Linked DNA regions of Homo sapiens. The protein of the gene in region 3 interacts with the protein of the main gene of each other region in a biochemical or structural test. Each region holds a gene or a part of one and is shown on either strand. Other genes may lie near its edges.

Region 1 (4,948 bases), on a different chromosome or scaffold from region 3:
GCACTCCAGCCTGGGCAACAGAGCGAGATTCCATCTCCAAAAAATTAAAAAAAAATTTAAAAACTCTTGTGTTGCCTCCTAGCCCCTTGATACAAATGAGTTTGTGACCACTGGCTCAGTTTAAAAGTTATGGAAAGCATGATTATATGTAGAAATACTTTATGACTAGGATTACCAAATGCCCTGATTTGCCCAAAACAGCTTAACTATCAAGACCACCCCATTTCATTCGCAGAAGTACTCCAGCCTGGATAATAAACAGTACTGTTGCCTTTTTGACAGAGGTGGGGGTTTTAACCAAATATTTGTCAAATGGTTTAAATGGTTCTCAGGCAGAGGTTTTTGCTTTGTTTTATTTTTTTCTTTTTCTTGAGGGAAAAACCGTGTCTATTCAGAAGGCTTATTTGTGGACAGGACTACAGGTCAATTTCCTGACTCTTTATGGAACGTTGTTAACCTTGCCCCTTGGAGTTGGCTCTAAACCTCAGGCCAGAAATCAACCCCACTCACCAATACTCAGCCAACTGTGATATTTGCAAGGATGAGGCAATGGTTTTCAAACAGGTTGGTCATCAGATCCCATGGGGGCAGGGATTCAAAATATAGATAGAGCTCCACAACCCATCTCAGATCCACCAAAGACAGCCTATACAGTGAAACCCAAGAACCCATACCTTTTTAAAGCTTCCCAGAAAATGTTAATGCTCATCAGGTTTGGAAACACCAAGAGAGATGATGACTATGACTATCTTTTCCCCTTAAACTCTCTCCCTGAATGAAGTTAAAGTCATCAGGTAGACAAAAAGTAATTAGACCCTAAAATCTCAGCTCCTCCAGAAACACCTTCAAGGGCAGAACTTATACTCCTATAAAATACATACAAAGCCCTTGAAAGGAATATCCATTAGAATAGTATTCCTCTATCTCTTACCAAAACAGACTTAAAAAAAAAAAAATAGGCCAGGCAGGGATGGCTCATGCCTATAATCCCAGTACTTTGGGAGGCCACAGCAGGAAGACTGCTTAAGCCCAGGATCTTGAAACTAGTCCGGGCAACACAGTGGGACCCTGTCTGAACAAGAAATTAAAAATTAGCCAGGCATGTAGTCCCAGCTACTCAAGGAGACTGAGGTGGAAGGATCGCTTAAACTGGGAGGAAGTGGAGGCTGCAGTTAGCTATGATAGCACCACTACACTCCAGCTTGGGCAATAGAGCAGGATGCTGTCTCAAACAAAACACAAACAAAAAAATACAGCCCCTGTAATGTTGGTTAACACCCCTGAAAATGCTATGCAAATGAAGCATTGCATAAGTAATTTTGTTGTTTTTTTTAAATAGAGATGGGGTCTCACTGTGTTGGCCAAGGTGGTCTTGAACTCCTGGCCTCAAGCAATCCTCACACCTCGGCCTTCCAAAGTGCTAGTTTCACAGGCATGAGCCACTGCGTCCAACCAGTAGAAGTATAATAACTCCAAACAAGATATCTAAATAACTCGACGTGGGTCCTATTTTCCCTTGGCCAGAAAACTCACAGCTAAATGTAGTGTGCAATTACAGAACCAACTGATTTAAAGTTCCTGGCACTTCTCTCTCTTTCCTCTTCCATGTTCCAATTTTTTGTTAAATCTTATATGTGTTCTTGTGTTTTAAATATTGTAAATGTGTAACTAAGTGAAAGACAAGCCTAAGACAAGCCTGCAAGTAAGTGAAAGAGACAGCCTAAATAACGATAGTAATAATTATATACAACTGGGATAAAGAAATGTGAGATTCAAGTTCAATCGCAATGCTACATGCCTTTAAGCATAATCTCCGCTGATTTAACAGTTGTGTCAAGGTATTTGGGTACAAATTTAACAGATTCTAAACTGGGGATAAAGCAGGACCCAGCTCTGTAGGATGCCATTTACATGTGGAATTTGAACTCTCTTTAGTCAGAATCTTCTGACTCAGTATGTTTGTGAGCCGAGGCTGTGGCACAGACTTCACAGCCATATTATGGCTGCAGAAGCTGTATGCATTTACACAGGGTGACCTGAAAACATAACACTGTTTTAAAATGTTCTTGGTTAGTCTATAACCATTTTCTCAGGGAAATGAGGCAATAAAATAGGGTAGATGCTTGTAGATAAGTTGCACCTTAATCCAGCTTCACACTATGCATGGTGCAAAAAGAAGTTATTAGTGCTAAGGGGTGACAGTTCAAAGAGACGTGCTGCTCTCTCAGTCTGAAAGACCGACCACCATTTCTCAGACAGGAATATAATAAAACAGGTAGCCAAATAGAATACTCTGACTAAATTCTTAAGAAGTCATCGAGGCCAGGCGTGGTGGCTCATGCCGGTAATCCCAGCACTTTGGGAGGCCGAGATGGGCGGATCACTTGAAGTCAGGAGTTCAAGGCCAGCCTGTTCACCAACATGGTGAAACCCCATCTCTACTAAAAATACAAAAAATTAGCCAGGTGTGATGGCGCACGCTTGTAATCTCAGCTACTTGGGAGGCTGAGGTGGGAGGATCACTTGAACCCAGGAGATGGAGGTTGCAATGAGCCGAGATCATGCCACTGCACTCCAGCCCAGGCGACAGAGCGAGACTCCGTCAAGAAGTCGTCGAGTTCCTCAAAAGTTTCCAAACAAGCTCCTATGAACCCTACGTGCTTTTAAATAGCTCCAACAGCTACCACCCATAACCCAAAGCCTAAACACTCACTAAACCTTGAGGGAATTACTCTCTCTGACTCAGTATCTTCATTTATCAAATGAAATTTATAATGCATCAACCTCATCAGGTTGCTGGAAGGCTTAAATGAGACTGCATTTGTAAAGAGTTCAGAACAATGCCTGGCACGTAATAAACACTCAATATATAGTAGCTACCATTAATATTTTTAATATTTAATAGTTTAATAGTACCACTAGGCTCTCTCTATATATCATCTTAATCCTCACCACAACCTTTGAAGACAAGCGCTATTATTCCCACATTGCAAATGAGGACACTGAATTTTCAGGGGTTAACCTGTCCAAGAACATACAAGCTAGTAAATGGACAAGATAAGGTTTGAACTAGATCTAGCAGATATCAAAAATGTATTTTTCCCTTGACATTAAGATGTCTTTAATTCTTGATTTGTTACAGTAAAAATAAGGCAGAAAGCACAAAGCAATGAAGTCCCAATAGTTCACTGAGATATAGTAATTTGGTTTTAGAAATGCTACGTGTGCGGAAAAAGTCTGGAAAGGTTTGCAGCCAGCTGTTCACTGTGTTTACCTCTGTAAAGTAAGACTGGGGAAGCCTTTTACCTTATGCTTTCTGTAGGTTTATATTGTCCGATCTTTTAAACAATTACGCGGGCTTCTATGTAACCTTTACTGAAGGATGACATGTATACAGCACAAATGGTAACGATACAGCTGATTGAATTCTCACATACAGAGCACACCCAAGGAAACAGCATGGGATAAAGAAGAGGACATTACCTGAACTGCTAAACCTCCCTGTGCCCGCCTTCCGTCACTGACCTTCCGGCAAAGGTCTGCCATGATCCTGACTGCTAACACTGTAGATTAATTCTGTCTAATTTTATGTAACTGGAATCACACAGTATTTACTCTTCACTCTTAGGTATGGCCTTTTTCTCTGTGTGTGTGTGTGTGTGTGTGTGTGTGTGTGTGTCTCCTTCATGTCACTGTGCATAGTTGTAATTTCTTCACTCTTGTTGCTGTGATGTTTTATACCATATAATTACACCCACTACTTATCTATTCTATTGCTGTTAGACATGTGAATCGTTTCAAATTTGGGGCTATTATGAATAGTGTTGCTTGGAAAATTCTCAAACTTGTCCTTTAGCACTCATGTGGACCCAGTTTCTATTGACTATTTAACTAGGAGAACTGTTGGGTTATATGGTATGGGTATGCTCAGCTTCAGAAGCATAAGTATTTTTTATTATTTTTTTAAAGAAATGGGTGCAAACTATTTGCTGCATCAACCATATTTAATCTATCTGTATGCATTTTTTTTTTCTAGATGGAGTTTCGCTCTTGTTGCCCAGGCTGGAGTGCAGTGGCGTGATTTCAACTCACTGCAACCTCCGCCTCCCAAGTTAGAGCAATTCTCCTGCCTCAGCCTCTTGAGTAGCTGGAACTACAGGTGCCTGCCACTACGCCTGGCTAATTTTTGAATTTTTAGTAGAGACAGGGTTTCACCATGTTGGCCAGGCTGGCCTCAAACTCCTGACCTCAGGTGATTCACCCACCTTGGCCTCCCAAAGTGCTGGGATTACAGACATAAGCCACCAAGCCCAGCCTCTGTATGCATTTTCAATATCTTTATCTAAACTAGGTCCTATCTATGTTCTTATTGTCTTACTTGATACGAATGGTCGTGTCTATAAAAATTAGTCCCTGAGTGTTCAGTAAGGAATCTGGCCTCCTACAAGACCGCTGTGTTCTTCACAAAATCATTTTTAGTATTTATGGCATTTACCAAGGAGACAGTGTATTACACATGGGAAAGTGCACCACAGAACTCAGCCACGGATGAGCAGCCCAATTTGCCCAGGATGTGGCTAACAAGAGTATCAATAATCACACAGGGTGCTAACAGCCATACAGGAATTACCTTTTTTGTCTTAGGTTTCATGGGTATATTCGGTTTTGGACTTAGCTTGGCTACCGCAAGGTGGAACTGTTCACTGCCTGGTCATCTTCATCTACCACAAGAACCATTCCCAAATGCCCTCCTATCCCCCACAAGCAGGTCTTTCTCTAGCCAGTCCTTCCACTCCTCTGCTCTTGTTCTTCACTGTCCAAGTGGGCATGGAACCTCATAACTGGACTGTAAATTCTCCCAGGTGGGGCCATGACTTTCAGTTTTTCAGGAGGGACAGGGAAGGGAGGTGCTGCTTTCTGAGGTGCTCTGAGCTGAGGCCACAAGGCA
Region 2 (4,948 bases), on a different chromosome or scaffold from region 3:
CAGAAGCTGAACTAGGGTCTCTTACTGTAACAAAGAAGACAAGATCATTACGGAAAAAAAAAAAAAATCTGACCTCCATTGAATAAAACATTAATACCACTGATAAGTGGTTTCCACTCGGGATATAGATCAGTGTCACCAGAGGAGATTTTAAAAAATACAATTGCTAGACTCCACTCTCTAGAGATTATAATTCAGTTCATCTGTGGTCAATGGGACATATTTTTTTAAAAGCTACCTAGCAAATTCTAATATAAAGCCATGGTTGAAAACTACCAGTTTAAATATGTTTTTAAAATAACACAGGAGGGAGTCATTCTTCTAGATATCAAAATATATAAACAAGTTGTAGCAATAAAAATAAAAGCAAAATCCACTGTGAAATTAGAACAGAAACAGACAAATTGATCAGAACAGAGCAGGGAGCCTAAAAAGGTGAGAGAGAGAGAATGTGTGTGTCTGTGTCTCTGTGTGCATATATACGAGTGTGTGGATCTTGACATATGATACAGGTAGCATCACAAACCACTAGGTTATTTAGTAAATGAGATTTGGGAAAATTCGTTTGCCATAGAAGAAAATACAGAAACATAACTTTGTTAACTAGGAATGGAGAAATATTTCCTACACAAGACCCAGAAGGTTAAAAAAAAAAAAAAAAGGTTGGATCATAACAAAATTAAAGATTCCGTTTAATGAAAGATTTCAAAGAAAAAATCTGACAGGTGAAAAACAAAAGATGCGTATACCATTTAAAATCCAACGAGAGACTGAAAAAAGAAGAAAACTGCTATAAATTAGGGCAGAAAAATGGGAAACAGATATGAAAAGCTAACAGAAAAAGAGGCAAAGGATATATAAATGGCGAACTCAACCGAGGAAAAACACACACAGTATACGATAGGATATTCCACTGCATTAGTAATCAGATAGCTGCAAATAAGAACAATAACATATCACTTTGTGCTGGATTGCTCCATCTGTTGCATCAGATTGGAAAAAATTATAAGGTCAGAAAATGCCACATGCCAGCAAGAATGCAGGGAGCAACAGCTGGTGAAAGTGTCAATGAGATAACAATCTGGTCGTACTTAAGGGAATTATGCATATGCCAGAGAGAGGGTCCCCTGGGGGCAAGGAAGAACATGAATGGGGATAGGTGATGAAGGGGAAAGATACAATAAAATAAGGTGGGAGACTCTACACGGACCAATCATGACAGTGTGCCATGAAGTGAGTGCTAACTCCAGTCCGAGCCCCTGAGCTGGGGAGGGAGCGGAGCGGGGCAGCTCCGCGTCACAGGTCCCTTCACCCAACCAGCAGGTATTCAGTCTCTACATACCAGGAACTGCATCCCATCCTAGCGACCGAGTAGCAAAAGATCAAGCCCTTACCCTCATAGGGTTTATGTCCTAGTGAAGGAAACAATAAAAAGGAAACAAATAAGATAATGATAAGAGAGTGTTAACAGCTAACAAGTAAGACAGTGATAGTGACAGAAAGTGATGGAAAGAGGGTTTCACTAATGAAAGGATAGCCAGAGGTGAGATCCCGCAGGTCTGCAGAAAGAAAATGAACCAGGCATTCAGCAAGCCGAGAGATGAGATCCCAAAGAATTGCGTTCAAGGGCTGGGCGTGGTGGCTCACGCCTGTAATACCAGCACTTTGGGAGGCCGAGGCGGGCGGATCATGAGATCAGGAGATCCAGACAATCCTGGCTAACACAGTGAAACCCTGTCTCTACTAAAAATACAAAAAAATTAGCCGGGTGCCTGTAGTCCAGTTTAAATATGTTTTAAACTGGAGGCTGAGGCAGGAGAATGGCGTGAAGCCGGGAGGTGGAACCTGCAGTGAGCTGAGATCACACCACTGCACTCCAGCCTGGGGGACAGAGCAAGACTCCGTCTCGAGAAGAACTGCGTTCAAGGTCATCAAATACAAAGTTGTCATAGTACAGGCGACAGTGTGTTCTAAAGATGACTTTCAGGTACTTCCTGTCATTCAGCTCCCAGAAGCAACCTTCAAAATACCTGTTATATAAAATGTAAACTATAAGGGTTATTGTGAGAGTCCAACATACGGTGATTAAAGAATGCAAACTTTTTGAAGGGGAAGAGGGAGGAGGCAGCATCGATATGAATGTGCTATGCCTCTAAAAAATGTTTCTGGAAAATTACTAGGATCCACAAACTTTTCCTTCACTCCTTAAAAAGTAATTGAGTAATCATATTTTTTCCCCAGCACAGTGCCAGGAAATGAGGTTAAGTATTAAATTTTCTGTCTTTGCTTCAATTGTATAAGATGCAGGATCCTATTTATTTTATATACGTACTGTTTTTATGGATAAAAGAAAACATTTATTGCATGCTTGCAATCTGCAAGGCCCTGTTCCCTGAGCTTCTACACATTGGAGCCCACTTACATTCACAACAAAATACTATATTATTTCCACTTTAGAGACGGAACAACAGAGGTTAAGAAACTTGCCTAAAGTCAAAGTACTAGAAAGCAGCAGAGCAGAGATTCAAACCCAGGTCTTTCAAAGTGTTAACCACTACACTTACGTTTCCCCCTAGAGTGGCTGGCCCCTGCAGTGGCTGTAGCACATGGCCTTAGAACTTATTAGAAATGCAAATCGCCAGGACCTCCCCTCCCAGACCGACTGATCAGAAATTCTGGGGCTGGAAGGCAGCTGCCTAAGGTTTCACAAGCCCTCCGTGTGATCCCAAGGTATGCTAAAGTTTGAGAACCACTGGTAGAAATTTTTCATACTAAGCATAATGTGAAAGGTGAAATTACTACCATTTTGAAACTTCTAAAATATAAAATTTGTATCCTATTTAAAATGACTATGAAGAAACGAAAACAGTGTTAGTTCATTTCCTCACTGCTCAACTTCTTTCTCCCAAACTTGACAAAATGCCTAATCTCTATCCTGATTATACTATGTACAAAAAGGGTACTCTGATGAGCGTTAGAGCACAGAGGTCTGAACTCACTCTTCAGAAGTAATCAGAAGCCATAATAGGAAGAGAAAAAAACAATATTTTGAATATCAGCAGAAGCTTGATAAATCTTGGGCCATAACTCCAAATTTTGATCCCAGGCTCAACTCCAAATTTTTACAACATGACTTCAACAGTCTTCCCAATGCCAAAAAAAGAAGTTACAACCCCGAGAAATATTTGATTAACAAGATTCAAACTGCTTTAAGTGCACATACAGAGAAACTGTCCAAGAGTGTGTTTTTATCAGGAGTGAAGCTAAGGAATGCCTAATTACACATCAGACCCTCTGACAATATTCACAGCAAAAGGGGTTAACGTTATCCCTGTCCCTGCACACACCTGCCGTGTACGGCATCCTACCTGATCCTTCTCTTTTCAAAGCTATATCTAGACCGGGAGACTTTTCTCCCCAACTCAAGTACTCAATTTGAGCAGTACAGCTCTATGTGTATTCAAGTTTGCCTATTTCTAATAAGGCCTTTTTTTGTTGTTAAAGGGATGGAAGAAAGAGTATGAGAAATAAGTATATTCAAGCACCTACCATAATCTGAAATCTTCCATAAGCCAAATAACTCTCTGAAGCTATTCACTCGCATACTCAAGTCATTAATTTTATAAATTTCAGGTTTCTACTTATTCCAAAAATTTAAAACATAAAATTGAAGATTAAGGAGTACTTAGTCCAAGCTTGGACCACAGGAGAGCTATAAACCTGTCTTAAAATGCTTAATGACCTGATTAAGGTCATCAAAGGTAAAGAAAACTCTAGGAAGCAGCCTTTTAATCTGCCTGGCTACTTACAACCACCCACCTTTTCCATGCCCACGCTCTCCTAAGGGCTGAAGGCACTGCCAAGAATGACCTTCCTAGAAGGGCTGAATCCTATTTATTTTCTCTCTCCCAAATCTCCACCAAATCCCCTAAGAACTGGCAGTGTTCTGGTAAGAAACAATTTACTATTGCTCTCCTCCCCACCCACAGTTCAGTGCAACTGAAGTGAACACACACACACCCCAACCACTGAAAGACTTTCTCACTTAGATTCCTATCCTGCATTTTCAAAGTCCAAAGTTGTCTTCAAAATATCTTGCAAAATGCAGTCGTACCAGCTAGTCTTTAATCTCCACTAACATTGCCAGTTCTATACCCAAAATGGATATCGCAACTGCTATGTATTTTCATCTCCCTTCTCTAACAATCAGTAACAAGCAACCCAATCAGTAATAAACAAGCCTGACAAATAGCTCCTAAATTCACAGAGAAAAGAATGGTCTCCTCTCTTTCATAAGTAAAGCAAGCTGATAATGTTCTAGTAAATAGAAAGACTAAATGCCTCTTCAAGAAAAAAACATTTATATGCCTGGAAAAAACATCTTGGGTTTTTTTGTTTTTGTTTTTTTACTTAAGTATCTGTTCATAGTAGGTAGCAAATAATCTTTCCACACATATGCACTTTACCAGTTCTTTTAAAGACTCAGTAATCTAAGAAAGCAAAGCATAAGACTATGCTGAAAGAGCTAAGCCGCAGTTTACATAAAATTTAAACAAAACACAAGACATTAAAAAAATTCAACTACTCATAAATAAAGACCAATAAATCTACACTTTGGTCTGGGTTTCTGAACACAGGAAGAATCAGAGGGTTCAATAGGAGAGGTTATTTCTGAAATCGTAGGCATACCTTGAAGATATCACATGTTCCATTCCAGACCACCTTAGTAAAACTAACACTGCAATAAGGTAACAGAAATGTTTCTGCTTTCCAAGTGCATATAGAAGTTATATTTACAGTATACTGTAGTCTATTATGTTGGCAATAGCATTAGCTCTTAATTTTAAAATGCTTTATAATTTTTTTAAAATGCTAGTGATCATCCGAGCCTTCAGGGAGTCATAATCTTTTTGCTGGTGGAGGATTTTGCCTTGATGTTGATGGCTGC
Region 3 (4,948 bases):
CTGATCCCAGGTTCTTCATCCTCAGACTCTGGGAAATGCTTTTTTTTTGAGAAAGAGTTTCACTCTTGTTGCCCAGGCTGGAGTGCAATGGCAGGATCTCAGCTCACCACAACCTCCACCTCCCGGGTGCAAGTAATTCTCCTGCCTCAGCCTCCCAAGTAGCTGGGATTACAGGCATGTGCCACCATACCAGGCTAATTTTGTATTTTTAGTAGAGACAGGATTTCTCCATGTTGGTCAGGCTGGTCTCAAACTCCCAACCTCAGGTGATCTGCCTGCCTCAGCCTCCCAAAGGATTACAGGTGTGAGCCACTGCGCCCGGCTGGGAAATGTTTGTTTAAAGCTATTGAGTTTTGGGTAATTTGTTACACAGCAATAGTTAATTAATATAGTACTATCATAATCCCCACTTTACAATTTAGGAAACAGAGGCTTAGAACATTTAAAGAACTTGCCCAAGGTCAGTTACACAGCCAACAAGTAACAGAACCAGGATTTGAACCCAGTTAGTTTGGCTCCACAGCCAATCACTTAATCATTACACTACAGTGATTTCCAAAAGACAAGGGAAGTTACAATCCAACATTTATTGAGCACCAACTACACACAAACCAATATGATGAAAGGCAGAAGACATGTTTTTAAAAAGGGTACACTGGCTTTAGAATAAGACTGACCCGGATTTTTTCATTCCTCTCTGCAACTTACTACCATAGGCAATTTACTTAGCCTCTCTGATCTTCAGTTTTCTCATCAGAAAAGGGTCCAGAATAGGTATTCACAGGGTAACTATAATGATTACAGTACCCAGGACAGTACATACTACCAAAATTATACTCAATAAATGATAGCTACTACTATTGCCATTATTATGATAATGATAAAAAAAAATTGAGGCACAGAGAATGTAAGTAATTTTCTTAAGTTTTATATAGCTAGTAAGGGGCAGAGCCAGGATGGGAACTCCCAAAGGGAGTGGAATGGAAGGTAGGTAGATTCCTAATGTGCTCTGCCTCCCTAACCCCCACAGAACCCCAGAAGTCCTTCCTGGAATTAGTACACATTCTTGTCTCTTGTCTCATAAGACACAAACATGCTTGTTCCATTGCTTAGAAGGGTCAGCTCAGCCCATCTCCAGGCCAAGGCTTTTTCCCTGTTTTCCTTCATGCCTCCGGCACCTCTAACCTTTCCTTACCTTCACCTCTTCATCCAGCTTTCGCTGTAGCTCCTCCACTTTTCGGGTAAGCTCACCCTGCCCTGCCACGGCCTTAGTAGAACCAGAAGAAACCATCTGCCAGAGATATGGGGGGTGTGGGGGAAGGGAGTGAGTCCAAGTCTGGATCCCCTGAGGCCCTCAAAGCTCTAACCTTGACCCTTGCTCCCATCCAGAGAAGGCCACTCACCACTAGAGGCTGCATCTTCTCCAGCACCAAACTAACCTTCCTCCTCACAGAGGTTTCACTTTCTGAGCTTCTAGAGGATAAAAGGATAGAAGCAAGGGTTAGGGGAGGAAAGAGGTAGCAGAGATCAGGAAAGGGTAAAATCAGGGAAGATGGGAAACAAAGCTAGAAGAAAAAGAAGGAGGGGTATGCCTCTGTTGTTGGGGGGGCCCCCACTCACCCCTCCCTCAGGATGCCATAGATGGTGGCCTTCATATGGTCCACACTGCCTGGTGGGGCTGCCTCCTGCTGGTCTCGAAGGAGGTCTGGAGTTGATTTGAACTGTTAAAAAAAAAGAAAAAGAAAAAAAAAAGAAAGAAAGAAAGAAATAGGAAGATTAGGCCAGAAGCATGCGTGGGGTTCAGATGGAGGAGAAGTGGCAGTCTCAGGTCAAGTCCCTTCAAGCATGATGAACAATCCTGAAATGCAGCAAGGAAAACATGCTGTGGAGGCCTGAGCAACAGGCCAGGGAGAGGCCAACACAGGATGCACCTCTGCACTGTTGCTGTAAACCAGATTTTCCTCAACAAACATCTCAACCAGCTGCAAACTGTGCCACAAGTGATTTGTCACTAATGGTAGTTAACATGCTAGAGTTTATAAATAATTTACTTTTAAAACAGACTTACGTTTCTCTCAAAGTAAAGTCACTCCCTCACTTACTTACATTCCTGAGTAGGAGAGAAAGGTGTGGAATTTTGGCAAGAGCACCAAGGAAACTGCTCTTATCCTCCAAGCCCGCCTTACATATTCTGCAGACCTTGCAAATGCTGGTGACTGAGCCATAGTTAATGGTTGTGGCAATGACAACTAGGTCCAAACTTGTGAATAGTGATTTTATAGCTTGCTCCATTTTCTTTAGAATTTTACCCATGGAAATATCCTGTGCATGTGAATATCACCTATTTTGTGGACAGATACAGTAGAGAACAAAAGGCAGAGAGTTTCTGCCTAGGCTATTTGAATTAGCAAGGAGGCTCATGGCTGGTGGGTAAAAGCTGATGAGAAGGGAGAAGGGGCTGACATTTAGAAGTCAGGGAGGGGCTGGGTCTGACCTGCAGCATGGTGGGGTCCTGTGCACTCCTCCGCGGCTCCTCAAAACTCTGAAGGACCCAGTCCTGAGTCTGACGAGAACGGCTAAAGCCACTGAGAGGACTCAGGTTCTGGCTCTGGGCTGGCTGCTTCGAAGTGCCCACATGGTTGTCATATTTTGTGCTAGAGGTCCAGTGGTTGGTGGACTGGCGCTCCCGTTCCTCAAAGGTGTCCCGTGGGAGGCGGCTGTCCAGGCTCTTGCTCCGTTTGCGCTGTTCAGGGGGTAGCATCCGTGTTCGGCGGCCAGTCCGACCCCGGGCCTGGCCTCCAAGTTGACTGTCAAACTTGTTGATGAGTGAGTCCACTGAAGACAGGGGAGCAGTGTCAATGGTGCTACCTGGGGAAGCCACTTTCGGGGCTAGCTCCAGCATGCTGTTGCTTCTGTTACTAGGATCCACTGGGCCAGGGCCTGCCAGTGAGGCCTGGGAGTGGGAACGGAGTAGCTTTCCATTCCAGTAGGCCCCAGGCTCCTCATCAGATGTGCTGCTCTGCGAGGGGGCAGGAAATCCCTTGACCTGAGAGTAGGGGTTCTCAGGGAGTTCCAAATCTGAGCTCAGAGCTCCTGAGGCCCCTTGGTCATTGGCCCCCTTGATTTGGACCCCAAAGGAGTCACCGCCTTTCTCCCCACTGTTGAGCACCACAAAGGGCTGCCCAGCGATTCCCTGCACACGCACAGCAACCCCGTAGGTACTGGCTCTTGCATCCTTAGCTGGGCGTCGTCCACCTCGACGTAGAGTGCCCATCTCTGCACCACTCACTGGCTCTGTGATGAAGCGAATCTGGACTCCATGGTCTACGGGGCCCCGGGGCTCAGCCATGTTGGGTGCCTGCTCCATAAATAGGAGGAGTCCTAGAAGATGAAGAAATGAGTTTAGGCTGAGAGACTTCACTAGAAACTATGAAACTTCTACCTGCGGGCTGACTTCCCTGTCAGTTCCTACTAGATAAACCACTGATTCTCAGACTAACAGAAGGCCCCTGGAGAGCCTTTTAACATACCGGTTGCTGGACCTAACCTCCAGAGCTTCTGATTCAGTAGGTCTGGGTTAGGACTTGAGAATTTGCATTTCTAACCAAGTTCCCCAGGTGATACTGATGCTACTGGTCCAGGTACCACACTTTGAGACTCACTAACCTAAAAGAATCCACTTCCTCTGATACAGCCCTGGGGAGCTAGGCTTTGTTAAAAGTTTAAAGATTTTGCTTGATGGCCAGGAGCAGTGGCTCACACCTGTAATCCCACCACTTTGGAAGGCCAAGGCGGGTGGACTGCTTGAGCTCAGGAGTTCAAGACCAGTCCGGGCAACATGGTGAAACCCCATCTCTACAAAAAATACAAAAATAAACTGGGCCTGGTGGTGCACACCTGTAATCCCAGCTACTTGGGAGGCTGAGGTGGGAGGATCACTTGAGCTTGAGAGAGGCTGCAGTGAGCAGTGATTATGCCACTGTTCTCCAGCCTGGGTGACAGAGTGAGACCCTGTCTCAAAAAAAAAAAAAAAGATTTTACTTGATCTTCATACATACATATAATACCACCATGTGGCCAGGTACAGTGGCTCATGCCTATAATCCCAGCACTTTGGGAGGCTGAGGCAGGTGGATCACCTGAGGTCAGGAGTTCAAGACCAGCCTGACCAACACGGTGAAACCTTGTCTCTACTAATAATACAAAAACTTAGCTAGGCGTGGTGGCGCATGCCTGTAATCCCAGCTACTCAGGAGGCTGAAGCAGAAGAATTGCTTGAACCCGGGAGGTGGAGGTTGCAGTGAGCCGAGATTGCGCCACTGCACTCCAGCTTGGGTGACAAAAGCAAAACTCTATCTCCAAAAAAAAAAAAAAAAAACACTGTGTGCCTTCTTCCCTTCCTCCCACCAAGGGAAGGCAGAACCCACACCCTGCTGAGCAGATACCTCCATCTCACTGGAGAAAAGGGGGCCTTCTCTCCCAGAGCTCATTTAAAATATAGAAGACCTCAAAGTATATCATCCCACTTCTGGAAAGAAACTTAAAAACACTGATAGCAGTGATGCCTTTGAGGTGGAGGAACTGAGGACTAGGAACAGGGATGGGAGAGTTTCTATTCTCTGGAAGAGCAGAAAGGAGTGGACATTCTACTGTATATCTCTTATGTCCCTTTTGAATTTGGAACCACGTAGATGTATTATCTATTCAAGAAAAGGTTGTGTTTTTTTTGAGACAGAGTTTTGCTCTTGTTGCCCAGGCTGAAGTGCAATGGCGTGATCTTGGTTCACTGCAACCTCTGCCTCCCGAGTTTAAGCAATTCTCCTGCCTCAGCCTCCCGAGTAGCTGGGATTACAGGCACCTGCCACCATGCCCGGCTAATTTTTGTTTTTAGTAGAGATGGGGTTTCACCATATTGGCCAGGCTGGTCTCAAACTCCTGACCTCAGGTG
Region 4 (4,948 bases), on a different chromosome or scaffold from region 3:
TAGAGATGGGGTCTTGTTCTACTGCCCAGGCTGGAGTACAGTAGTGCAATCCTAGCTCACTGCAGCCTCAAACTCCTGGGCTCAAGTGATCCTCCCATCTCAGCCTCTGGAGGAGCTGGGACTACTACAGGTGTGTGTCACCATGCCTGGCTAATTTTTTAAAGTTTTTTTGTAGAGGTGGGATCTCACTATGTTGCCCAGGCTGGTCTCGAACTCCTAGGCTGAAGTGATCCTTCCACCTGGGCTTCCCAAAGTGTTGGGATCACAGGTGAGAGGTGCCACGCCTGGCCTATCAAACTTTTTGATGTTTGCCAGTCTGACAGGTGGAAAACGCTATGTCCCTGTTGTATTACTTCACATGGATTTAATTACAAACGAAGCATGCTGACTGACCTGCTCATATTCCGTGTGTTTGTACCCTTTCACCATTTTTTCCATTGGTTGAATTCTCTAATTTTGGGGTCTGGACACTCCCACTGAGGGTCCAGTCCTGTGCCATCCACTGTGCCGAAGGTGGCCATACTCACTCCCAACTGCAGCCGCCTCCACCCCGCAAGGACAGAGTTGCTAGCTTCGACAGAGACCCTCTGGCTCACAAGGCCTAAAATATTTACTATTTGGAGCTTTCGAGAAAAAGTGTGCCAGTTCCCATGTCTCATTGGTTTACAAGAGTTCTTAGTAAATTAAGGAAATAGCTCTTTGCCACATATACTCTGTTTTGCATTTAGCTCATCTCTCTCTGTTCTCCCTCCTGGCCTCTGAATAAGCAAGTCAGAAGTAAAACTTAAAAGCAGAAGCCTGCAGAACCCCTTGACACATTTGGTGCGTTTGGAAACACTTTGGTCTATGCTAATCTAGGGGTGGTATCATTATTATTATTAATTTGTGATAGAGTCTTGCTCTGTTGGCCAGGCTGGAGTACAGTGGCACAATCGTGGCTCACTGCAACCTCTACTTCCCGGGTTCAAGTGATTCTCCCGCCTCAGCTTCCCGAGTAGCTGGGATTACAGGTGCTCACCCCCATGCCTGGCTAATTTTTGTACTTTTAGTAGAGACGGGGTTTTGCCATATCTCAAACTCCTGACCTCAGATGATCTGCCCGCCTCGGCCTCCCAAAGTGCTGGGATTACAGGTGTGACCCACTGTGCCCAGCTAGGGGTGGTAATTTTATACCCATTTTACACGTGCAGCAATTGAGGCTCAAAATCATCATGTGACTTTGTTGGGGTCACCGAGATTGCAGGCAGTGGAGCCGGAATGGGCACCTTGTCTGTCAGGCTCTAAGTCTGTAGATCTCTCCAGAAAGCAGGTTTGCCTTTTTTTTTTTTTTTTTTTGAGACAGGTTCTTACTCTGCTGCCCATGCTGGAGTGCAGTGGTGCAATCACGGCTCCCTGCAGCCTCAACTTCCTGGGCTCTAGCAATCCTCCCACCTCAGCCTCCTGAGTAGCTGGAACCACAGGCGCATACCTCCATACCTGCCTCATTTTTAAATTTTTTGTAGAGATGGGGTCTCGCTATGTTGCCCAGGCTGGTCTCGAACTCCTGAGTTCAAGCAATCCTCCGCTTTGGCCTCCCAAAGTGCTGGAGTGCTGGGATTATAGGCATGAGCCCTCGTGCCTGGCTTTTTATTTTTTTTTAATCTTGCCTCTTAAGGAATGAGGCCAGTCCCAGGGGACGGCAGAAATCATAACCAGCATTGTCCTGGCAGGTGTTGCCTTTGATACCACCATGACCGAGGACATGGCATGGGGCAGCCCCCATTCTGCTGCTGTGATACTTGGGTATAAAGACAGCAAATTCCTCAGTTGCAGAGGGGCAGGAAGGAAGATGACATGCTAGACACAGAAACCACACAAAGGAGGATGGAGCCCTGTTTGTGAGCATGGATACTACACATGCCCCTCTCTGGCTCTCACACTTGCAAGAATAATGCCCACTAAGGAATGGCCCCGGCTGGGCCAGGAGGAACCCAGCACTTTGGAGGAATGACTGTGCTTGGAGTAGCAGGACAGGGGAAGAAGAAGTGACAGCCACACAGATGGGACTGGAAGGACTTTTATCACCCTCTGGCTCTCGGCCACCAACACCTATTACAGAAATGTGACAGCAACCATTATAATCTCTGAGCCCTTGAACAAATCACAACCCAAAAGGTTACCCTCCCGAAAATAATCACCCCATTAAAACCACTGACCCAGAGAGCGGCAGTCCCTCAAGGAGAGAACGCAGACAAGGCATGGGGCGTGTTCTTTGTATGGAGCGTGCAGTGCCCTGGCCGTGATTTTCTTATGTGGCCTGCCACAGGAAGAGGCTGGCATCTGGAATCTGTGCCTTCTAATTTTTATTCTTTTCTTTTTTTTTTTTTTTTTGAGTCGGAGTCTCGCTCTGTTGCCCAGGCTGGAGTGCAGTGGCACGATCTCGGCTCGCTGCAAACTCCGCCTCCGTGGTTCAAGCAATACCCCTGCCTCAGCCTCCCGAATAGCTAGGATTACAGGCGCCCGCCACCACCCTGGCATAATTTTTTTTGTATTTTTAGTAGAGACAGAGTTTCACCATGTTGGCCAGGCTGGTCTCGAACTCCTGAACACAGGCAATCTGCCCACCTCGGCCTCCCAAAGTGCTGGGATTACAGGCGTGAGCCACCACGCCCAGCTGCCTTCTAATTTTTCTTTGGCAGAAGAGCATGTTTAAGGGGCTCCCTCGAAGGTTCTCTTTTCCTTCTCTTTTTGTTTCTGTATTTCAATCAATCGATCAAAATATTTCCTTTCTTTTTTTCGTTTTTTTTTGTTTGAGACAGGGTCTCGCTCTGTCGCCCAAGTTGGAGCGCAGTGGTGTGATCTCGGCTCACTGCAACTTCTGCATCCCAGACCCAAATGATCCTCCTGCCTCAGCTTCCCAAGTAAGGAGAGACCCCTATGCCTGGCTAATTTTTTAGTATTTTTTTTGTAGAGACATGGTCTCATCACGTTGCCCAGGCTGGCTGGTCTGGAACTCCTGGACTCAAGCGATCCTCCTCCTTGGCCTCCCGAAGTGCTGGGATTACAGCCATGAGCCACCGTGCCCAGCCAATCAAGCTATTTTCTAGACTGATTGGGTACTGCCACCACCAAGAGTGAGGGTTTTTCTACAGGGTAGATTGACGGAGCATCAGCTCGGTCTGTGATTTCCTTGGGCCTCATAATTCCCCCGTAAGATTGAGATTGCAGATAAGGAATCTGAGGTTGCACCAGAAAAAAGTAACGAGGTCCATCCAGCTGGTGTTTGCGGGGATACCGGCACTGCAGCCCTGGGTCTGGACTCCAGGGTCCAACCTCTGATCTGCTCCAGACCTTAGTCATCACGGCAAAGGTAGTCCTAGCTCATATGCCGCATTTTCTCATTTTATGCTTGGTGTAACTGACAATACTGAAAATAACCAGTATTGATATCCTGATTTCATTAGAGAAATGACTCTCAGAGAGCTTAGGTGACGGGAAGCCTGTCTAAGGTCACACGGCTAGCACAGATCAGTAGTCATGCCTCAAACCCATGCCTTCATGGGCTCCAACCCAAAAGACGGAATGCTGCTGGAGGCGCTGCCTGCAAAGCAGATAGTGCAGGGCCTGGCCAAGAGGGAATGGAAAGTGTTTTTTTGTTTTTTTTGTTTTTTTTTTTTTTTTCCTTTTTTGGAGACAGAGTCTCACTCTGTTGCCCAGGCTAGAGTGCAGTGGGGCAATCTCAGCTCACTGCAACCTCTGCCTCCTAGGTTCATGCGATTCTCCTGCCTCAGCATCCCGAGTAGCTGGAATTACAGGCGCCTGCCCAATTTTTGTATTTTTAGTAGAGATGGGGTTTCACCATGGTGCCCAGGCTGGTCTCAGACTCCTGACCTCAAGCGATCCGCCTGCCTCCGCCTCCCAAAGTGCTGGGATTACAGGTGTGAGCCACCGTGCCTAAAGGCGGTTTTTAAAATGGATTCGAAGAGGCTCCATTTTTCAGCATTTGACACGCCTTTTCATCATCATCATCTGAAAATCGGGACCCTATTTGGCCTTTCATGCCCGACATGCTATGAGGAGCTACAATCACAAGTGCGTCTTCAACTCCACGGCCTCTGCCAGCCACCACCAAGCCACAGTCACACAGCCCCTCAGTCCCAGGAAGCAAGCCTTTTATCGGAAGGGTCCAGAATCACTGCATAGGATAAAGAAGTCCAGACACTGCCCCTCTTTTTTTTTTTTTTTTTTTTTTTGATACAGGGCCTTGCTCTGTAGCCCAAGCTGGACTGCAGTGGCGCCATCTTAGCTCACGGCAACTTCCGCATCCCAGGCTCAAATGATCCTCCTGCCTCAGCCTCCCAAGTAGCTGGGACTACAGCTGCACACCACCATGTCTGGCTAATTTTTTGGTATTTTTTGTAGAGACAAGGTCCCGCCATGTTGCCCAGGCTGGTCTCGAACCCCTGGACTCCTAGAACCTGGGCGCCCTCTTGTGACCCTGCCAACCCCTTCCTAGTACAGTGTCCACAGGTGGCTGTCCTGTCCCATCTCCCAGCTCCACACCCCCTTTTGGTGGGGATGCCCTTCCTCCCTGAGATTTTCAGCACCATCTCGGCCTGGAACCTTCCAGGAATCCCTGGACCTTCTGAGTCCTACCATCACCCAAGCTCACTCCCTGCTGCCCTTCCCACTCCTCCTAATTCTTTACCATCTCATGTGTGTCTCAGCCACACTCTGACCACGGTATACACAGACTGTGTGATGAACCTACTCAGGGTGGAGCGCTGCTTCTCACATCCCTCCTGAGCCCCCTGCGGCACCAAGTACAAAGCCACTCACACACGCCCACTGATGGATTTAAACAAGCGTGTCATCTTTAGAAGAGCTTGGTTTAGAAGTCTTTTTTTTGAGACAGAGTCACGCTCTGTCACCCAGGCTGGAGTGCAGTGGTACGATCTCAGCTCACTGC

What was found. Proteins that work in one complex are often made in the same cells at the same time.
Region 1: the proteins of CGN (region 3) and PDLIM1 interact in a test that uses a peptide from one of them, tested with the Homo sapiens proteins (one large-scale study listed by IntAct).
Region 2: the proteins of CGN (region 3) and MPP7 interact in a test that uses a peptide from one of them, tested with the Homo sapiens proteins (one large-scale study listed by IntAct).
Region 4: the proteins of CGN (region 3) and CARD11 interact in a test that uses a peptide from one of them, tested with the Homo sapiens proteins (one large-scale study listed by IntAct).

The regions. Positions count from the first base shown.
Region 1 is NC_000010.11:95,280,338-95,285,285, forward strand, and holds part of PDLIM1 (PDZ and LIM domain protein 1), read right to left. Parts: intron 1-4,948. UniProt on the Homo sapiens protein: Cytoskeletal protein that may act as an adapter that brings other proteins (like kinases) to the cytoskeleton. Involved in assembly, disassembly and directioning of stress fibers in fibroblasts.
Region 2 is NC_000010.11:28,292,399-28,297,346, forward strand, and holds part of MPP7 (MAGUK p55 subfamily member 7), read right to left. Parts: intron 1-4,948. UniProt on the Homo sapiens protein: Acts as an important adapter that promotes epithelial cell polarity and tight junction formation via its interaction with DLG1. Involved in the assembly of protein complexes at sites of cell-cell contact.
Region 3 is NC_000001.11:151,516,939-151,521,886, reverse strand, and holds part of CGN (cingulin), read right to left. Parts: intron 3,382-4,948; 5' UTR 3,368-3,381; coding exon 2,495-3,367; intron 1,722-2,494; coding exon 1,621-1,721; intron 1,474-1,620; coding exon 1,404-1,473; intron 1,292-1,403; coding exon 1,196-1,291; intron 1-1,195. UniProt on the Homo sapiens protein: Probably plays a role in the formation and regulation of the tight junction (TJ) paracellular permeability barrier.
Region 4 is NC_000007.14:3,036,702-3,041,649, forward strand, and holds part of CARD11 (caspase recruitment domain-containing protein 11), read right to left. Parts: intron 1-4,948. UniProt on the Homo sapiens protein: Adapter protein that plays a key role in adaptive immune response by transducing the activation of NF-kappa-B downstream of T-cell receptor (TCR) and B-cell receptor (BCR) engagement.